Homo sapiens: one gene and its partners. The protein of the gene in region 2 purifies or fractionates together with the protein of the main gene of each other region. This does not show direct contact. Each region holds a gene or a part of one and is shown on either strand. Other genes may lie near its edges. The genes, in order: POTEI, C20orf203 and CNRIP1.

Region 1 (5,497 bases), on a different chromosome or scaffold from region 2:
AACTGAGTGTTCTAATGGTAAGGAGGAATTAAAAGCAGCTGGTGGGTAATCTTAAATTTTAGTCATTAAGGAAAAATTTTAAGACAAAACTCTAATTCAGCTACTTACCTGGAAATAAGGCTCAGACTGGGTGATCATTCTCTGCCATCTTAGAAGCTGGAAAAACTTACACTCACCTTCCCTGTCAGAAGCAAGCTGAAACTCAGGAAAGGAGGTGCCTGCTCTCCTTTGTCAATGGAAGCAGGAAAACTTGCCTTCCTTGTTGGAAATGAGTAAAACTTCAAAAAAGGAGTTGTACAGCAAAATCAACCTTACATCTCAACCAAATTTTCGGAGATCAGGGACTCTGTGAAGGGGAGAAGCTCCACAACCTCAGCAAATTATCCTATTGGTTTGGGCAATACAAATAGCCCAGGTTGGTATCAAGCAATAATGAGATTTATCAAAGGTCAGGACCACCTTTGTAATGTCCTTCTCTTTTTTTATCTTTATTGGTAGAGTCTGTTTTGTCAGAAACTGGGAGTGCAACACCTTTTTTCTGTTTTCCATTTGCTTGAAATATTTTTCTCCATTCCTTTATTTTGAGCCTATGTATGGCACTGCACGTGAGATGGGTTGCTTGAAGACGGCATACTCCAGTGGGTCTTGGTTCTTTACCCAGCTTGCCCCGTGTCTTTCAATGGGAGCATTTAGCCCATTTACATTTAAGGTTAGTAATGGTATGTGTGGATTTTATCCTGTCGTCATGCTGTCAGCTGGTTATTTTGCAGACTTACATATGTGCTTGCTTTTTAGCATCATTGGACTGTGTACTTCAGTGTGTTTTTGTAGTAGCAGGTGATGATCTTTTCTTTCCATATTTAGTGCTTCCTTCAGGAGCTCTCGTAAGGTAGATCTGGTGATACCAAATTCCCTCAGCACTTGCTTGTCTGAAAAGGATCTTATTTCTCCTTCACTTATGATGCTTAATTTTGCTGGACATGAAATTCTGGGCTGAAATTTCTTTTCTTTAATGGCAGTTGATGTGGGTTGGGGTGTGTGCTGCACTCCTGTGTGCTCTCAGGGCAAGTAAAGCAAAACCCACCCGTGTAAACACACACAGCAAAGTGATTTAGGAAGTTTCCAAATAAAGGGCTGCCGTATGGAGAGGCAATGTGCAGGCTGGTGCGTGGCTCTAGGGGCCACCTTGCTGCAGCTCTCCACTGATATGGTACAGTCCACTAGCACGGAAGCTATGGTGTGGGCATCTAAGAGTGCCCCGTAAGCAGGTGTGGCCAGGCTGGGGCCATGGGAGAGGCGAGCAGACTAAGGAGTGCTGAGATCAGACCAGCCCCATCTCAAGTGCAAGATTGCCCAGCCTCCAGAGATCAGGTCTCAGAGGAGAACTCTCTCAAAAGTGAACCCCCAGCACAGCACAGCCGCTCTACACAAACGTGGCTAGACTTCTTTTATTAAGCAAGTCTCCTTTTTTTAAAAAGGGAACTCTCGGACCTGATCTCTGCTGGGCAATCTTGCATATAAGATGTGGCTGGTATGACCTCAGTATTCCTAAAGTGCTGGGATAAAGTGTCTCACAAGGGCAAGTGGACCCTAGAGAGACAGCCATCCCTGACCTCTGGGCTCCACATCACCTGACTTGCTGCTCCACCACTTTGCTTGTTTCCTGGGTGCTCCATCCCAGAGACATGTGAGTTAGCAATCACTTAGTGTAATCAGCCCAGGATGGAGGGTCTGTGCTGTGGGCCCAAGCCAGGGTTCCCTGTCTGGTGATGAGTAGTGGAGGGTGTGTGGTACCCGTGGGAGATGGACTGGCTTGTTCTTTGGGTCAACTGCAGCTTATTGGAGGTGTTGATAGGGCACTTAGGGTCTTTGCTCCCTTGCATCTTCTGAGGGCAGCAAGGGCAGTTCCACTGCAGAGGCAGTGGCAGAAAGGATTTCATTTGCTCCTGGAAGCTCTGTCCCAGGAACTGCAGAGTTGCTACTGGCTTGATAGCTCCAGTGGTGGGCTGGCTAGAGACCCAGGCCAGGAGGATCTGCCCATCAAGTAGAGAGCCTGGCCACTTTTCTGTAGGGCTGCTGTGGTATGCTGGGGGTCCCCTCCAGTCCCTAATTGCCTTGTATTTTCCAGGGAAGATGATAGTCTGCCCCTTCCTCTGGAAGCTCTGTACCACTGAGGTACGAACCTGTTGCCAATCTGAACACACCTATAAGATGTGGCTGGAGGCAAGTTGAGAAGTCTTACCTAGTCAGGACGAACAAGAACAGGGACTTGCTTCAAAAAGAAAAGTCTGGCCACGTTTTTATAGAGCAGCTGTGCTGTGCTGGGGGTTCACTTCAGCCCCTGGTCCGCCTCAGACACTCTGAAGCCCTAAGGCTGAAATGCCTGGGTCGCCCCAACAGCAAAGATGACAATCTGGTCCTCCCCCTGGGAGCTCTGACTCAGGGAGGCCTGAGACCTCTGTCGGCCAGAGAACAGCAGTCAAGGTAGCCAGAGACCCTGGTTGAAAGACTTCACCCACTGACTAGAAATGTGGTCAGGGACTGACGTAAACAAGAGTCTGGCCACGTTTTGGTAGCGTGGCTGTGCTGTGCTGAGGTACCTCTTCCACCCCTTGTCAGCTTGGGCTCTCCAAAGCCCGCAGGCCAGAATGGCTAGTCACCGAAAGAGCAAAGGTGGGGGCCTGCCCCTCTCCGGGAGCTCTGTCCCAGGAACATTTCACATTTCCATTGGCCAAGGAATGCTGGTGGGGGTAGCTGGAGGCCCCAGTTGGGAGGTCCTGTCCAGTGAGATGGAACAGGATCAGGGGCCTGCTTACAGAAGCAGTCTGGCCATGATTTGGTAAAGCAGCTATGCTGTGCTGTGGGATCTCTTCTGTCCCTCGTCGGTTTGTACTCTCCAAAGCCCGCAGGCTGGAATGACTAAGTTGCCTGAACGGGAAAGATGGCGGCCTGCCCCGTCTTTTCTCTCAGAGTTTTATCTTGTTTCATGGAGCTTAATTTTTAGCCTGTTGATTTTACTGTCTACGTTAGACTTGTTGAGAAAGAATCTGTTCTCTTTTAGGTGAGATAAATGAGAATTCATTGTCTTCTGTAAATAAACCTGTTCATGTCTTGTTCTCTGGAAAGAAGTCTCTTTCAGCTATCTGACTTTGGTCACAATCATGTAGAGCAGCAGCCAGTCTACAATGACGTAATTGAATTTCCATTTCCGGTGTTTCCTCGTTGTGTCTTACATTGTCCAGTTCAGAACTGAGCATTTTATTCTCAGTTGTCAACATGCTAAGCTGTCCACTGTACTGAAATACTGTGCTTCCTCAATTTTTTTTAAGGTGTGCACTTTTATCCAACTCTCCTCAAGTCAGAGTACAGGTAAGCCCTGGCTGCCTCCAGCCACTCTCAGGGAGACCAAAAGCCTTCATACACCCCAAGTTGGGGTACAAAAGAGGGGGGCCACGAAGGCTGATCATTCAAAATAAAACAAAATTAAAAAGTATTAAGGCGAAGATTCAAAAAATTTTGCATTATGTAATCTGCACAAAAGCAATGCTATCACCTCCCCTGTGTGAACTAGGGAGAGGACTGGGCCATTCTCCTTAGAGAGAAGTGGGGTGGCTTTTAGCAGGGCAAGGGGCTTCCTGAAACAATGCGTCTCACAATATTTGGAATGACTATTGAAAAGAAGAACAATGTACAATCAAAGTCCTTGGCCACATTGTAGAACTTTGGAGGAAGCTTCCTCCAACCGACTGCTGTCACCTTCACCATTCCGGTTTTTAAATCCTGAGTCAAGCCAATAAAAAACAAAACAAAAAATGAAACAAGAAAACAAATAAAGCCATGCCAATCTCATGTTGTTTTCTGAGAAGTTTGGTTTTGTCAAGAAAGGGTGTAACGCAACTAAGTCAGAGTCCACCTAGAAGCATTTGCGGTGGACAATGGAGGGGCCTGACTCATCATACTCCTGCTTGCTGATCCACATCTGCTGGAAGGTGGACAGCGAGGCCAGGATGGAGCCACCGACCCACACGGAGTACTTGCGCTTGGGAGGAGCAATGATCCTGATCTTCAACATGCTAGGCGCCAGGGCAGCGATCTCCTTCTGCATTCTGTGGGCCATGCCAGGGTACATGGTGGTGCCGCCAGACAGCACTGTGTTGGTGTACAGGTCTTTGCGGATGTCCACATCAGACTTCATGATGGAGTTGAAGGTAGTTTCATGGATGCCACAGGATTCCATGCCCAGGAAGCAAGGCTGGAAGAGCGCCTCGGGGCAGCGGAACCACTCGTTGCCGATGGTGATGACCTGGCCATCGGGCAGCTCGTAGCTCTTCTCTAGGGAGGAGCTGGAGGCCGCCATGGCCATCTCCTGCTCGAAGTCCAGGGCAACATAGCACAGCTTCTCTTTGATGTCACGCACGATTTCCCGCTCGGCCATGGTGGTGAACCTATAGCCACGCTCGGTGAGGATCTTCATGAGGTAGTCAGTCAGTTCCCGCCCAGCCAGGTCTAGGCGCAGGGTGGCATGGGGGAGGGCATTCCCATCATAGATGGGCACAGTGTGGGTGACCCCGTCACCAGAGTCCATCACGATGCCAGTAGTACGGCCAGAGGTGTACAGGGACAGCATGGCCTGGATGGCCACGTACATGGCTGGGGTGTTGAAGGTCTCAAACATGATCTGGGTCATCTTCTCGCGGTTGGCCTTGGGGTTCAGGGGGGCCTCGGTCAGCAGGATGGGGTGCTCCTCAGGGGCCACACGCAGCTCGTTGTAGAAGGTGTGGTGCCAGATCTTCTCCATGTCATCCCAGTTGGTGATGATGCCGTGTTCCATGGGGTACTTCAGGGTCAGGATGCCTCTCTTGCTCTGGGCCTCCTTGCCCACATAGGACTCTTTCTGATGCATGCCCCCCATCATGCCCTGCTGCCTGGGGCGCCCCACGATGGAAGGGAAGACAGCCCGGGGGGCATCGTCGCCCGCAAAGCCGGCCTTGCACATGCCAGAGCCGTTGTCAATGACGAGCACGGCGGTATCATCATCCATGGTGAGCTCATTCAATTGTAGAGCCTTTAAAAGATTATCATTCTTTTTTTTCACACTTTCAATATCCTCCAAATATTTCTTTTTTCTTAGCTGGCTCTGATGTTTCATTGTGTCTAGCTCCAGTCTTAGCATGGCAATTTCTTCCCGCAACGTACTATTTTCATGCAAGAAGTCTTTTTCTTTCTTACAACTAAGAGAAAGCTAAGTAAACAAAGAGAACTTTTAGTTAGCACTCAATAGATTGACATATCATTATTTCTTCTGAAATTCAAAAATAACATGTATTTGTATAATGAAAGAATCCCCATAGTGGATATTTAACTGGAAAAAAATTGGACAAAACTTCAAACCTAATAAGAGTGTAAATTCCTCCAGTGATTTATTTTTCATCGCCTTTAAATAAATATTTAAACTTTTAGGAATCTGCTCCTAAATTCCTAAAAGTTTAAATATTTA
Region 2 (4,940 bases):
GAAGGACCCTGAGGGGGGCCTGGGGGCTGGGGGAACTGTGCCAGATGGAGAGAGAAAGCAGAGGGCATTCAGACAGGAACGGCAGGAGTCAGAGCACGTGGGCTCACTGTACACGGGATGGGAGGACGACACGTCATTCCGGGTGGCTCCCTGGGGGTTTTTGCTGGGCTGGGAGGCATGGCTCAGGAGGATGCTGGAAAGAGAAGTTGTGGCCTCATGGAGTTGCCTCCTAGAATCTGTCTCTGAAAATGAAAATGTGAGACTGGCCCACCATTACAAAATCAGAGAACACAGGAATGTTTATTTTAGACAGGGTCTTGCTCTGTCACCTAGGCAAGCGATCCTCCCACCTCAGCCTCCCGAGTAGCTGGGACTACAGGCACACACCACCATGCCCAGCTAATTTTTGTATTTTGTAGAGACAAGGTATCCTCATGTCCAGGCTGGTCTTGAACTCCTGGGCTCAAGCAATCCCCCCACCTCAGCCTCCCAAAGTGCTGGGGTTACAGGCATGAGCCATGGTGCCCAGCCGAGGAAATGATTATTATTATTTATTTATTTTTCTTTCTGAGATGGAATCTCACTCTGTCACTCAGGCTGGAGTGCAGTGGTGCGATCTTGGCCTTCTGCAACCTCCATCTCCCGGGTTCAAGCAATTCTGCCTCAGCCTCCCGAGTAGCTGGGATTACAGGCATGTGCCACCATGCCTGGCTAATTTTTGTATTTTTTAGTAGAGATGGGGTTTCACCATGTTAGTCGGGCTGCTCTTGAACTCCTGACCTCATGATCTGCCTGCCTCGGCCTCCCAAAGTGTTGGGATTACAGGCATGAGCCACCGTGTCTGGCCCATTTTTATTTATTTATTTATTTTGAGACACGGTCTCACTCTATTCCCCAGACTGGAGTGCAGTGGCACAATCTTGTCTCACTGCAACCTCCGCCTCCCAGGTGATTCTCCTGCCTCAGCCTCCTGAGTAGCTGGGATTACAGGCATGCACCACCATGCCCGGCTAATTTTTGTATTTTTGGTAGAGACAGAGTTTTGCCACATGGGCCAGGCTGGTCTCAAATTCCTGGCCTCAAGTGATCCGCCCACCTTGGCCTCCCAAAGTGTTGGGATTACATGTGTGAGAGACCGCGTCTGGCTGAAATTATTTTTAAAAAGGAACTACAACCCCCAGGTTAGTCCATCACCAGAGATAACCACTGTGAAGCATTTGACACATTTCTTCCTAATATCATTTCATATATATATATATATGCATATGTAGGTCTCCTAATAAAAAATAGTTTGCCTCTTGCTGTCTTTTACCTACAGTTACATCAGATGCATTGTCTGGTGCCTTTAAGTAGTCTCTGAAATCTGACTCCTCAGCCTTTTGGATGACTCCAGCCGGTGGTGGCCCTTTGACAAGTGTGGCCCCTTCTCGTGGCTGGGCACAGAGGCTGTTTCACTCGTTTTCTGTGATAAAAACACCGCAGTAAACATCCTCCGTCCTGCGTAACTTCATGTCCACATTGCTGATTGTTTTGTTGTGTTTTTTTCTGATAAATTTCTGGACATGAAATTCTCGGAAGCCCTGCTGGGCCCGGAGCTGGCTAGGTACTCGGGAGGGTGCTGGGCTTCCTAGAGCCACGCGTCCACACCTGAGGACAGCTTGGACCCAGCTGTAAGGAACAACGTGCACTTCTTGAATGTCTCACGCTGTCTTCCACCGCTTTGTCCATGATGTCACAGTACCTCTCGCCTCCCCTCCCAATGCCTGTCTTGCTAATTCTTTCTTATCTTTCCAGACTCCAGCATAACCTTCTCCAGGAAGCTTTTCCAGAGCCCCCAGGCTAGGAACCTCCCCCCAACCCCTGAACTCAAGCCCCAGCAGCCCGTGCCTGCGCCATCTCCATCAGAGCTGCATCTCTCTGGGTCTCTGGGTAACAAGTGCCATTTCTTTGTTGTTTTCTGTGTCCCCCAAGGACAAAGCTCAGGCTGGATTCATCTCGGAATTCCCAACACCGGGGTAGAACTGGCTCATTTCAATTTCAGTCAATGTTTGTTGAGGAAAGGAGTGAAGAGTTGGACACATGAATGAACGCATGAAACAGTCCGGAGTGGGGAAGCTGAAGCTCAGGCATCAGGATCCGGGAGAAGCATCCAGTCCAGGCGGACGGGGTGGAAGGTTCAGAGCAGGGGCCCCAAGTCAGGAGTAGGGAGGCAGACGGCAAGACCTCCTTCCATGAAAGGAGGCTGGGACCAGGGGACCAGGTAGTGCAACGCGGTGAGGGGGCTGTCAGGGCGACTGGCCGGAGGAGTCAGAGGCAGGAGGCACCACCAGGTTACAGACAAGGACCTTCTACAAGAGGGAAACGTGTCATGGGCTCTGGAGCCCCTGTCCAGGTTCAAATTGTGACCCTGTGCCAGGGACAGCTTCTTTGTGCCTCAGTTTTTCCCATAAAATGAGGATAATAATACTTCATTCATGCCTTTTTTTCCCCTCAACAAACATTTGTTGTATGTCTGCTGTGGGCCCAGGACAGGAGGCTGAGAAGGAGCTGACCACAGTGGTCACACAGCCAAGCCCTGCTGCTGAGATCTGACCCCAGTTCGCCTGTCACAAGTTCTATCTGTGCCTCGTTGTCTGCCTCCTGGGGCTGTTATGAGGGCTGAAGAAGGGGCAGGCACAGAGGAGACACTTACTATATGATCATTGTCCTCCTAGAGTATCATCACCATCAGGTGGACTTCAGTGGCCATCCCAGGCCTCCACGGATCAACCACAAGATCTTGGAGAATGTCCTTACCCTCCAAGCCTCAGTTTACCTTTAGGGTGACCAACCATCCTGGTTTGTCCAAAACTGAGGGTTTTCCTGGCACAGTCCCAGGCAAACTGGGATGGTGAGTCACTGATATAGTTTGACTCTGTGTCCCCACCAAATCTCACCTTGAATTTTAATAATCCCTAGGTGTCAAGAGCAGGACCAAGTAGAGATAATTGAATAATGGTGGCAGTTTCCCCCATGCTGTTCTCATGATAGTGAGTGAGTTCTCACGAGATCTGATGGTTTTATAAGCAGCTTCCCCCTTTGCTCAGTATCACTCTCCCTCCTGCCGCCCTGTGAAGAGCTGCCTTCCACCATGATTGTAAGTTTCCTGAGGCCTCCCCAGCCACGCAGAACTGTGAGTCAATTAAACCTCTTTTCTTTATAAATTACCCCAGTCTCGGGCATTTCTTCACAGCAGCGTGAGAACAGACTAATCCCGTCACCCTGGTTTCCTCATCTCTAACACAGGGACCACCTGCCTCCCAGGGCTGTTGTGCAGAACAGAAATAAGCCTATGGAAAAGGCAGAAAACCATGGAGCCAGAATTCTAGATCTGGTTACATGAATACTAAAGACTTTTGCATGCCATGGAATTCTAGGCATGAAAAAGAACGAGGCGGTCCCGTGTACTGCTGTGGAAGAAGCTCTGAGATACATGTTTTTTTTGTGAAAAAGGCCAGATACAGCGCACTTTGTGGGGAGCGCTTCTGTTAGTACCAAGGAGGGGGCAGGAACACACGTGCATGTGCTCCAGTGCGCACATGGGTTCTCCCGGGCGGGGACTGGGGGCTGAGGAGAAAAGACTTGTTTTTCACTGTACATCCCTTTGCTTTGTTTGAATTATTTTACCCCTTTGTTTTCAGTAGCTGGCCGAAAAACTTCCCAAGCTTCCATGTGTCAAAAAGAACTCACTGAACGAGATTTAAAGGCCAAAGTTAGGGAGTAGGAAATGTGTCTAGCTCAGGGCCCAGCATCTAAGGAGTGCTCCATGAAAGGCCTTCTCCCCTCTCCCACTCCTGACCTTGCTGACTGCTGGGAGTGCAGGGGCACAGACGGGCTGTTGCCTCCCCCAGTGCGGTATTTGTGAGGCTCAAATGCAAGCCCAGGCTGGGGAGACTGCTCTGGGTTCCACGCGGCATCCTGCCTAAGCCCTGGGGGTCCTAGAGGTCACTGGCTCCCTTCTCTGCCTGCATGTCTCAGGTCGCCCTCTGGCCAATTCTGAAGTCCTGCCCTGCCTCAAGGAGCAGAGGTGGCAGAGGTGGGCCCACCGCACAGGGTAAATGTCCCGGTGTCACATACCTCCAGATTGCAGGGACCTGCGTATGCTACTGCTGCTGTGGAAACCAGCTCTCTCTGGCTCTGGCCTTGGGGAGAGGGAGCCACAGTGGATTTAGGAAGAGTCTCCAGATGTAGCTTGAGACTACCAAACAGGCCTGACCCCCACAGACCCTGCCTCTTATGAGCGCCCAGACTGAGCCCTGCTTCAGGCTCCCAGCCATGTGGCCAGCTGCTTTTCTTCTTTAATTTTTAGCATCAGACGAATATTTCAGGAAAATATTCTCATTGTAAAATCTCAAACATTAATAAAATGTAGTGAATAAAAGGCCATGTAATTCCTCTTTACCTCCTGAGCCCCATTCTGTTTAAACCATTGTTGTCAGCTGGTCAGTGTATATACCTATACCTATGCCATGCCTATACCAATACCTATACCAATATCTGTAACTATACCTATGCCACTACCTATGCCTGTGTCGTGCCTGTACCAACACCTATACCTAGACTATCTATATTTATATCTGTTTAGATGTGCATATTGTGTTTAGGTATGCGTCTCACGTGAGTAGTAACATTCTGTATGTTTTGTTCTGCAAGATGCTTTCTTTTTCTTTTTCTTTTTTTCTTTTTTTTTTTTTTTTTTTTTTTTTAGATAGAGACTCATTCTGTTGCCCAGGCTGGAGTGCAGTGGCTCAATCTTGGCTCACTGCAACCCCTGCCTCCCAGGTTCAAGCGATTCTCATGCCTCAGCCTCCCAAGTCGCTGGGATTACAGGTGCACACCACCACACCCAGCTAATTTTTGTATTTTTAGTAGAGGCGGGGTTTCACCATGTTGGCCAGGCT
Region 3 (7,899 bases), on a different chromosome or scaffold from region 2:
GAGACACTGTCTCCAGAAAAAAAAAAAAAAAAAAAAAAGTAACCCTCAGGGAGAATGAATTTGAGGTTAAAAAAATTGAGAATTCACTTTTAGCCATGTTATGCTTGGGACACCTGTTAACCTATCAGACACGCATGTAGAGATATTCTGTCAGGAGTTGGTTATGTGAATCTGGAACTTAGACAAATGTTTGAACCTGGAGATATAAAATTAGAAGTATCGGTGTGGTAGAAATAATACAGATATTTCCACCTAATGTAAGGAGGTTTGTGTTCTTTTTCAATGGAACTCTAGCCAGCCTCACAAAAGGAGTCAAGAACAGGAAAAGTAGAAAACTATCTTCATGGAATCTAGTTTTAATTGAGTATTTACTTTCATTTGTGGAGAAAAAGTGAGTGGAGCTGTCCTGGTTGTTCAGGAAAGATAACATTTATGTAGGGAAACAGCAAAAGTATTATTTGGAACATAAAGTGCTATGCTAAATTGGCCCAGAACAAAATACGAAACTGACATTATGATCGCCATCACCTGACCAAGGTGCATGTGACTGTATAAGGAGGTAACCAGATCCCCTAAGAGCCTAGCAGACAAATGAGGTCTACTGCTTATTGCCATGGCTACAAAATCCTTTGGGTCTAAGGGAGGACCTAGGTTCTTCAGAATTGGTCCAGGAGGATGGCTTTGTCTTTATGTCTGTTAAATCTAGCCAGAAAGAAAGCCCTGATATAAATGTAAAGTGTACCTGGCTGGGCACTGTGACCCACATCTGCAATCCCAACACTTTGGGAGGCTGAGGCAGGTGGATCACTTGAGGTCAGGAGTTCAAGACCAGCCTGACCAATATAGTGAAACCCTGTCTCTGCTTTAAAACATACAAAAAAAATTAGCTGGGCATGGTGGCACGTATCTATAATCCCAGCTACTCAGAAGGCTGAGGCATAAGAATTGCTTGAACCTGGGAGGCAGAGGTTGCAGTGAGCTGTGATTGCACCACTGCTCTCCAACATGGGTGACAGAGCTAGACTCCATCTCAAAAATAAAAGTAAAATAAAATAAAATAAAATGTAAAATGTACCAGTTAAGATCTCTAATGCTAAGACATTCTGAGGTAGGCAAAGGGAAGGAGTCAAGCACCTCATAAATCATTGACACTAATTTAAGAATAAAAATAAGAAATAACTCCTGCAGATGTTAAACTGTACCTGAATGCAAACATGAATACAAAGGAAAATACATTGTTAAATGTGCTGGTATTATATTGTGTATATGTGTTTGTGTGTGTGTATAACCCAAGCCCAGGACACATTATGACACATGACATAATTGAGTGTATACATATGTATGTGTATAACCCAGTCCCAGCACTCTTAACTACGTTATTTTCATATACATGCACACAACTATGTCCTGTGTCATAATTCTAACTGTTTTTGAACTCTATATTATGAATTCAGCAGAGACTGGAACAGCGAATATGGAACGGTTGTTAGCACAATGTCTTAGTCTGTTCATGCTGTTATAACAAAATATCTTAGCCTGGATAATTTATAAACAACAGAAATTTATTGCTTACGATTCTGGAGGCTTGGAAGTCTAAGGTCAAGGCACCAGCAAATTTGGTATCTGGTGAGGGTTCACTGTTTGCTTTATAGATGGCAAATTCCCGCTGCATCCATACATGGTAGAAGGGGGCAAACGACCTCCCTCAAGCCCCTTTTACAAGGGTACTACTAATCCCATTCACGTGGGCAGAAGAGCCCTTATGACCTAATCACCTCCAAAAGAACCCACTTCTTAATACTATTGCTTTGTGGATTCGGTTTCAACATAGCCATTTTGGGGGAACACAAGCAGCTGGGAGGCTGAGGCAGGAGAATCGTTTGAACCATAGCATGTGATTCCTCTGAATGACAACTAAGTCCATCGTTCACTTGGGCTCAATTTCACAGTTTTCAAAAGAATGATAATAAGCATTGTCCATTAGACAGACAATGTTTAAGATCACCAATCTGAGGTAATAATTAAAGAATCTACAATAAGACTGAAAGCACTAGATACCTTAAAAATATATAGCAAGAAATGAATTAATGCAGGAAAAAAAAGCCAAATACCGCATGTTCTCATTTTTAGTGGGTGCTAACCATTGGGTACCCATGGACATAAAACAGTTTTTCAACCCTTACTTGTCTCCCTCCCTCCCTGGCTAGTAGTCTTCATTCCATTGGTAACAATAGACACTGAGGACTTGGATGATGGGATCATTTCTACTCCAAACCTCAGCATCATGCAATACGCTCCAGTAACAAACCTGAATCTAAACTAAAAGTTGCTACATATTCAGCAAGTATATTTTTAAATAAAAATAGTTACAATGTATTGAGTGTCTCTATGGGCCTGATATTCTTGCATAGTTTACACAATTTCATTTGGTTCTATATGCATCATCTATGTCACCATCATCATTTTACAAATGAAGAAACTGGGGCTCCAAGAGACTAAAGCAGCTTTGCTCAAGGTCACTCAGTTTGTAATCCACAGATCTGGCAACACAAACACAGATCCATCAGACTCCATATTCATATTCTTTGCACATATGTATCAGTGATGATAAATTTTCCAATTACTTTTACATTTATTAATTTCATTTTAAGACATTACATTGTATGGTCCTGAAAATGCTATTCCTAATGGATATTGCCCAGCATTAGTAACACCTCGTATTTGAAAAGTAATTTATTTTTTTCAAACAATTTCCATTTCCTCATTCAATTCTCACAATGTTGGGAAGGAGGTATTTTAATCCTCATTTTACAAAGATGAAACATAAAGATGTTAAGTTATTTGCATAACGAAACTAAAAAGTGGCAGAGTTAGGTTTTTTTTATTTTATTTATTTATGAGATGGCAGTCTTACTATTTTGTCCATACTGGCCTCAAACTCGTCGGCTTAAGTGATCTTCCCACCTTAGCCTCCCAAGTAGTGGGGACTGCAAGAGTGCACTACCTAGCCAGGCTAGAACCAGAGTTTTTGTTTTTGTTTTTGTGTGGGTTTTTTTTTTTTTTTTCAGATGGAGTCTCACTTTGTTGCCCAGACTGGAGTGCAGTGGCATGATCTCGGCTCACTATAAGCTCTGCCTCCCCAGCTCAAGCGATTCTCATGCCTCAGCCTCCCAAGTAGCTGGGACTACAGGCATGCGCCACCACGCCTGGCTAATTTTTTGTATTTTTAGTAGAGACAGGTTTTGCCATTTTGGCGAGGCTGGTCTTGAACTCCTGGCCTCAAATGATCTGCCCTCCTTGGTCTCCCAAAGTGCTGGGATTCCAGGCATGAGCCACCATGCCGGCCTTAGAACCAGGTTTTAAAATGGAGTCATCATCCTCCAGGTCCAATGCTCTTTTTGATACACAGGTGGAAGTTGGCTTGAGATTGTGGGGTTGCTAAACAAAAGGTTGAGGAAAAAAGGCAAAATTTCCAAAAAGGCTTTTAAATGACCCCAAAAAGATACTCACCCTCTTTCCACTACTCATAAACCATAATAACCAACATTAAGTTTACTGTGTAACTCTCTCATTCTTTTAAAAGAGCTAATACAAACATACACATTTATATTCTTTTTAAATTTTCATTTTTCTAAAACACTAGAGATGCTACTTGCAATTAGATTTCTTTTCATCATTCCAGGTAAATCGCAAGGATCTAATTAATTTTAAAGATGTGAAAGAATTTACATATGGACATGATTAAGACCACAACCGTAAGTCAATTCAACAACGATTTCTGGAGCACCTACTATGTGTCAGGCACTATTTTGGCATGCTGGGGAAACAGCAACAAACAAAACAGACAAAATGCTCGCCCTCAGGCTTTGTTTCCCAGCCATCCCACTTTTATCATTAACAGTTTTTGCCTGTGTGTTTGCCAATGCAACCTATATTTCATTATTTTGATAGTTGTGTAACGTTCTATAGTGTGGGTATATAAGAATTTATTCAGCCATTTATTTATTGGTTAACATTTCATTTAGGTTTTATTTTTATTTTTGCAACCAATGTTGCAATAAACACCCATATTACATATATATTATATGTATAGCTTATTATTTCTTAAAAAAGAGCAGTCTAACTTGGGTAAACAAAAACTGCCAAGGAAACGCATCCCTACCCATTTGTTCTCACTAGCCCACTTCATTTCCCAGGTGTGCTCCCTGGCTCTGGTACTATCCATCTGGGTGGTGCTGAAGCAGGTGCTCTCTCTGCTCCGGGAAGCCATTCCCAGTATAGTCCTCACCCCCTGAGTCTCCCCTCGCTTCCAAAAGTCAGCTGTCTACCGACCTCTGCCACGAAAACTGTCTAATCACGCTTAATATGCAAATCTAAACTCTGCGGTGTCGCATATGGCCCCCTGCCAATAATCCTTTGACCCATCCCACCTCTTGGCCATTTTGTCACCAGAATGCCTTAGGCTCATGTCAGTTGCCTTTTACAGGGTTAATAGCTCACCCTTCAAAATCTGTGTAAATATATGTGATTCATTACATATATTTATGTATGTGTCATTTTTGGGACGAGCATACGTATAATGGAAATGTACACCCACAAGAAGATGTAGCTCCTTGAATATGGTTATTTTCTTCCTCTTGCATCCATTCCTCATCCAGCGTGGCTCCATCACGTGGAATTGCGCCTTTCCTCGGCCATTTCCCCTAAGCTTTGGAAAGACTCATATTTCCTGAAATTTAAATCACCGGCTAGCGGTTTCCTGTCCCCCCTTCCCGCCTCCCTTTACCCCCCCTCAGCCTCCTCCCGCCTGGCTGGCGCCGGATCCGCGAGCAGCAGTGTCCACCTCACGTAGCTGGCCGAGGCGGTATCCAGATTCCGGGGGTCTCGCTCCTTGGCATAGTGGTCGCTTAACTCCAGCGCCTTCCCAGTGCCTCCCAAACCTCTCCTCCTCCTGCCCGGGGCTGTTCTAGGAGGAGCCTAAATGTCCGCTTCCCCAGCTGAAGGGGATTGTGGTGCGTAAACAGGATTAACTCCCTCGCCCCCAGCTGCGCGGATCTGCGCGGCGGCCTGCGGGCCAGAGCGAGCCTTCGGGTGCGTGGAGGGCGCAGCACTGGAGCGGGGGATGGGGAAGCGCGCGGCCTTGGAGCCGTCTCTTGGGCCCGCTTCCTCGCCGAGTGGGGAGGGGGGCCACAGCCTAAGGAGCTGCTCCTCAAAAGCCCGGGCGGACGGCGGCGACGGCGCGGGTTCCTAGCGGCAGCCTCAGCTCCACCACCTCCCTCACCCTCCCCGCGCTTCCTCTCCGCCCCTCGCGCTCCAGCCACTCGGCCGCAGCCGGCGCTGTCCTCCGCCCCCCGGAGCCGCCGCGCCAGACCCTCGCCCAGACATGGGGGACCTGCCGGGCCTCGTGCGCCTCTCCATCGCGCTGCGCATCCAGCCTAATGACGGCCCGGTCTTTTACAAGGTGGACGGGCAGCGCTTCGGCCAGAACCGCACCATCAAGCTGCTCACCGGCTCCTCCTACAAGGTTGAGGTGAAGATTAAACCCAGCACGCTGCAGGTCGAGTGAGTGCGGGGCGCCTGGTGGCAGCAGGGTCCCCCATGGGGTACAGGCAGAGGACTGAGGCCCCCAGGACAGCCCGAGCCTCTCAAGGGCCTCTGGCCTCGCGCCGCTCCCAGCGGGCCCGGGGGTTGGAGGAAGAGGTCACTCCCTGTCCGCCTTCGTCCCCTTCCTTCCCTTTGGCTTGTATTCCTCCATTCTCGCTTCCCTCCACCCATCGCAGTGACCTCAGTGGGTTCTTTAAAATCAGTGACAAGAAGCCAGGGTTTTTGCTTGTCTGTTTCTTATAAATTTCTCCTGCCTTCTGTCCAGCCTTGGGCGCGGAACCGCAGGCGGTCGGGGTGGAGCAGATGGGAGAGGTCCGCAGGGTTCAGCCACCGCAATCCCAGCCCTCCTGCGCGCGGTCCAGGCGGCCCACAGGGTCTGCCCGCAAGGCTGAAGGAGGGAGAAAGGAGGAATGAGGTGGAAAGGCAGGGGAGGGGTGATTACTGGGGCTCCCTGAGGGATGCTCCCCACTCCCTTCGCCATTCAGTGGCTGGGACCCTGGGGTGGAGCAGCAGACACTAGTAAGAGAGCGGCCGCCCCTTCTCTGGCCTAGTTTCACGGTTTTCCATGCCGTATGCTGTTCTTTTTCTCCTGAGTTTTCTGTTCAGGCTGGTGATGGTGCCTGGGATTAGCAACATCCCCACAGCAAGAGGATGTTTTTTGGTTTATCCATGGCAGGGACGATTTCTTGCCAGCGACCGCTGGATAATGCACCCAGTAGACCTCTGGCGGGAAAGTGTGTGGGAGCATGCAGTAGCCTACCCGGAAGAACTGCGGGTGGAGCCCCTTTACCTCTCGTTTCTACCTACCAAAGTCTAGTCTGCAGAGAGAAAATAAACCAGCATTTATTGTATCTACTACATATGGTGGGCATTATTGCGGGGGTGGAAGGACTTTGAATTCATCAGATACTACTTATAGCTTACGTTTTAATTCAGTAAACTTGTATTAGCCTTCCAAGGTGCAAGGACCTAGAACCAAATCTGGATGGTTTCTGGTACTCCTGATTCATCTATTTGTCAGCATCCCCCACAGCTCCATGCACCCTTTATTCTCACATTTCCCAGTGTTCTGTGCACCTGGATATAATCCAGGCTTTTCCTTTCCCTTCTTTCCTGCCAACCTTATCCCCGGAGTTATCTGTTAATATATTTCTTTTTTTTTTTTTTAGAGTATTCCTCTAGTGTTCAAACTAATCTAAAAGTTAATTTGTTAGGAATAAAACTATTTTTTCTGGTTACATTTTAATGCTATCAAGGATTTCTCAACTCTAATCCTGTGGTTCTCAAACCTGAGTATATATCAGAATCACCTGGAGTGCTTGTTAAAACACAGATGCTGGAGCTCTCCCTAGAAGTTCTAGTTTAGTCTATGGTAGGGCCTAAGAATTTGTTTTCTAAGGTCTGCAGGTGATGCTGATACTGCTGGTCCAGGGACTTGGCTTTGAGAACCATTATCCTAACACAAAAGAATGATGCCAGTGAGAATTTCTGATGGTGTAGAAGGCTTGAGGTACTCCAAATCATAGGACCCCTGATTGTTGGAACAGGAGAAAAAAAATATTAGAGGACGAGTTCAGTATTCTCAATCCTACCTGCATATTAAGATCACCTAGATAACCTTAAAATAAATGTACCAGTGTCCAAACTACATCCCAGGCCAACTGAATCCTAATGTCTGGGGCTGGGGATAGGTAGGTTTTTAATTCATAAATAGGAGAAGCACTGCCCCCTGAACTTGCAGAACTTTCTCCCGCACCACAATGCCCCCCTTAGTGAAACCCTGTAAGTTTCCTGCCTAGAGTTTTGGTCCAAAACAGGACAGGGTGCCTAGGCTAATTTCAACCGTATGTGGTCAACTCAAGTCTATTGCAGGAATATTTCCATTGGTGGTGTGCTTGTCCCACTGGAACTGAAGTCTAAAGAGCCTGATGGGGACAGAGTTGTTTATACGGGTACATATGACACAGAAGGTGTGACCCCAACGAAGAGTGGAGAACGGCAACCCATCCAGATCACCATGCCGGTAAGGCTTGCTTGCGGGTATAGGAGTATGGTGCCATGGAAAATGGAAACCACAGAAAAGAAAACAATCACTATCTCTCTGTAAGAAAAGGTGTGTTGGGAGCCAATTACTGTGGAAATTGAGTTGTGGATTTCCTTCAAGCATCTGCTGGAGAGAGAACTACTTAATTAATGCTCTTTTGCATGACAGACTGACCCTGTAGATGCTGAAAAGACACCATAAGCAGAAGCAGATGGTTCTGGAAGAGACAGAACCTACATTGCCATTTTCCC

The links.
Region 1: the proteins of C20orf203 (region 2) and POTEI purify together in Homo sapiens (affinity purification with mass spectrometry; 3 studies listed by BioGRID and IntAct, with this or other methods). This does not show direct contact.
Region 3: the proteins of C20orf203 (region 2) and CNRIP1 purify together in Homo sapiens (affinity purification with mass spectrometry; 3 studies listed by BioGRID and IntAct, with this or other methods). This does not show direct contact.

The regions. Positions count from the first base shown.
Region 1 is NC_000002.12:130,458,903-130,464,399, forward strand, and holds the end of POTEI (POTE ankyrin domain family member I), read right to left. Parts: intron 5,243-5,497; coding exon 3,914-5,242; 3' UTR 553-3,913; downstream 1-552.
Region 2 is NC_000020.11:32,631,125-32,636,064, reverse strand, and holds the end of C20orf203 (uncharacterized protein C20orf203), read left to right. Parts: intron 1-1,794; 3' UTR 1,795-4,440; downstream 4,441-4,940.
Region 3 is NC_000002.12:68,316,885-68,324,783, reverse strand, and holds the start of CNRIP1 (CB1 cannabinoid receptor-interacting protein 1), read left to right. Parts: upstream 1-4,834; 5' UTR 4,835-5,383; coding exon 5,384-5,562; intron 5,563-7,466; exon of another isoform or gene 7,467-7,476; coding exon 7,477-7,627; intron 7,628-7,899.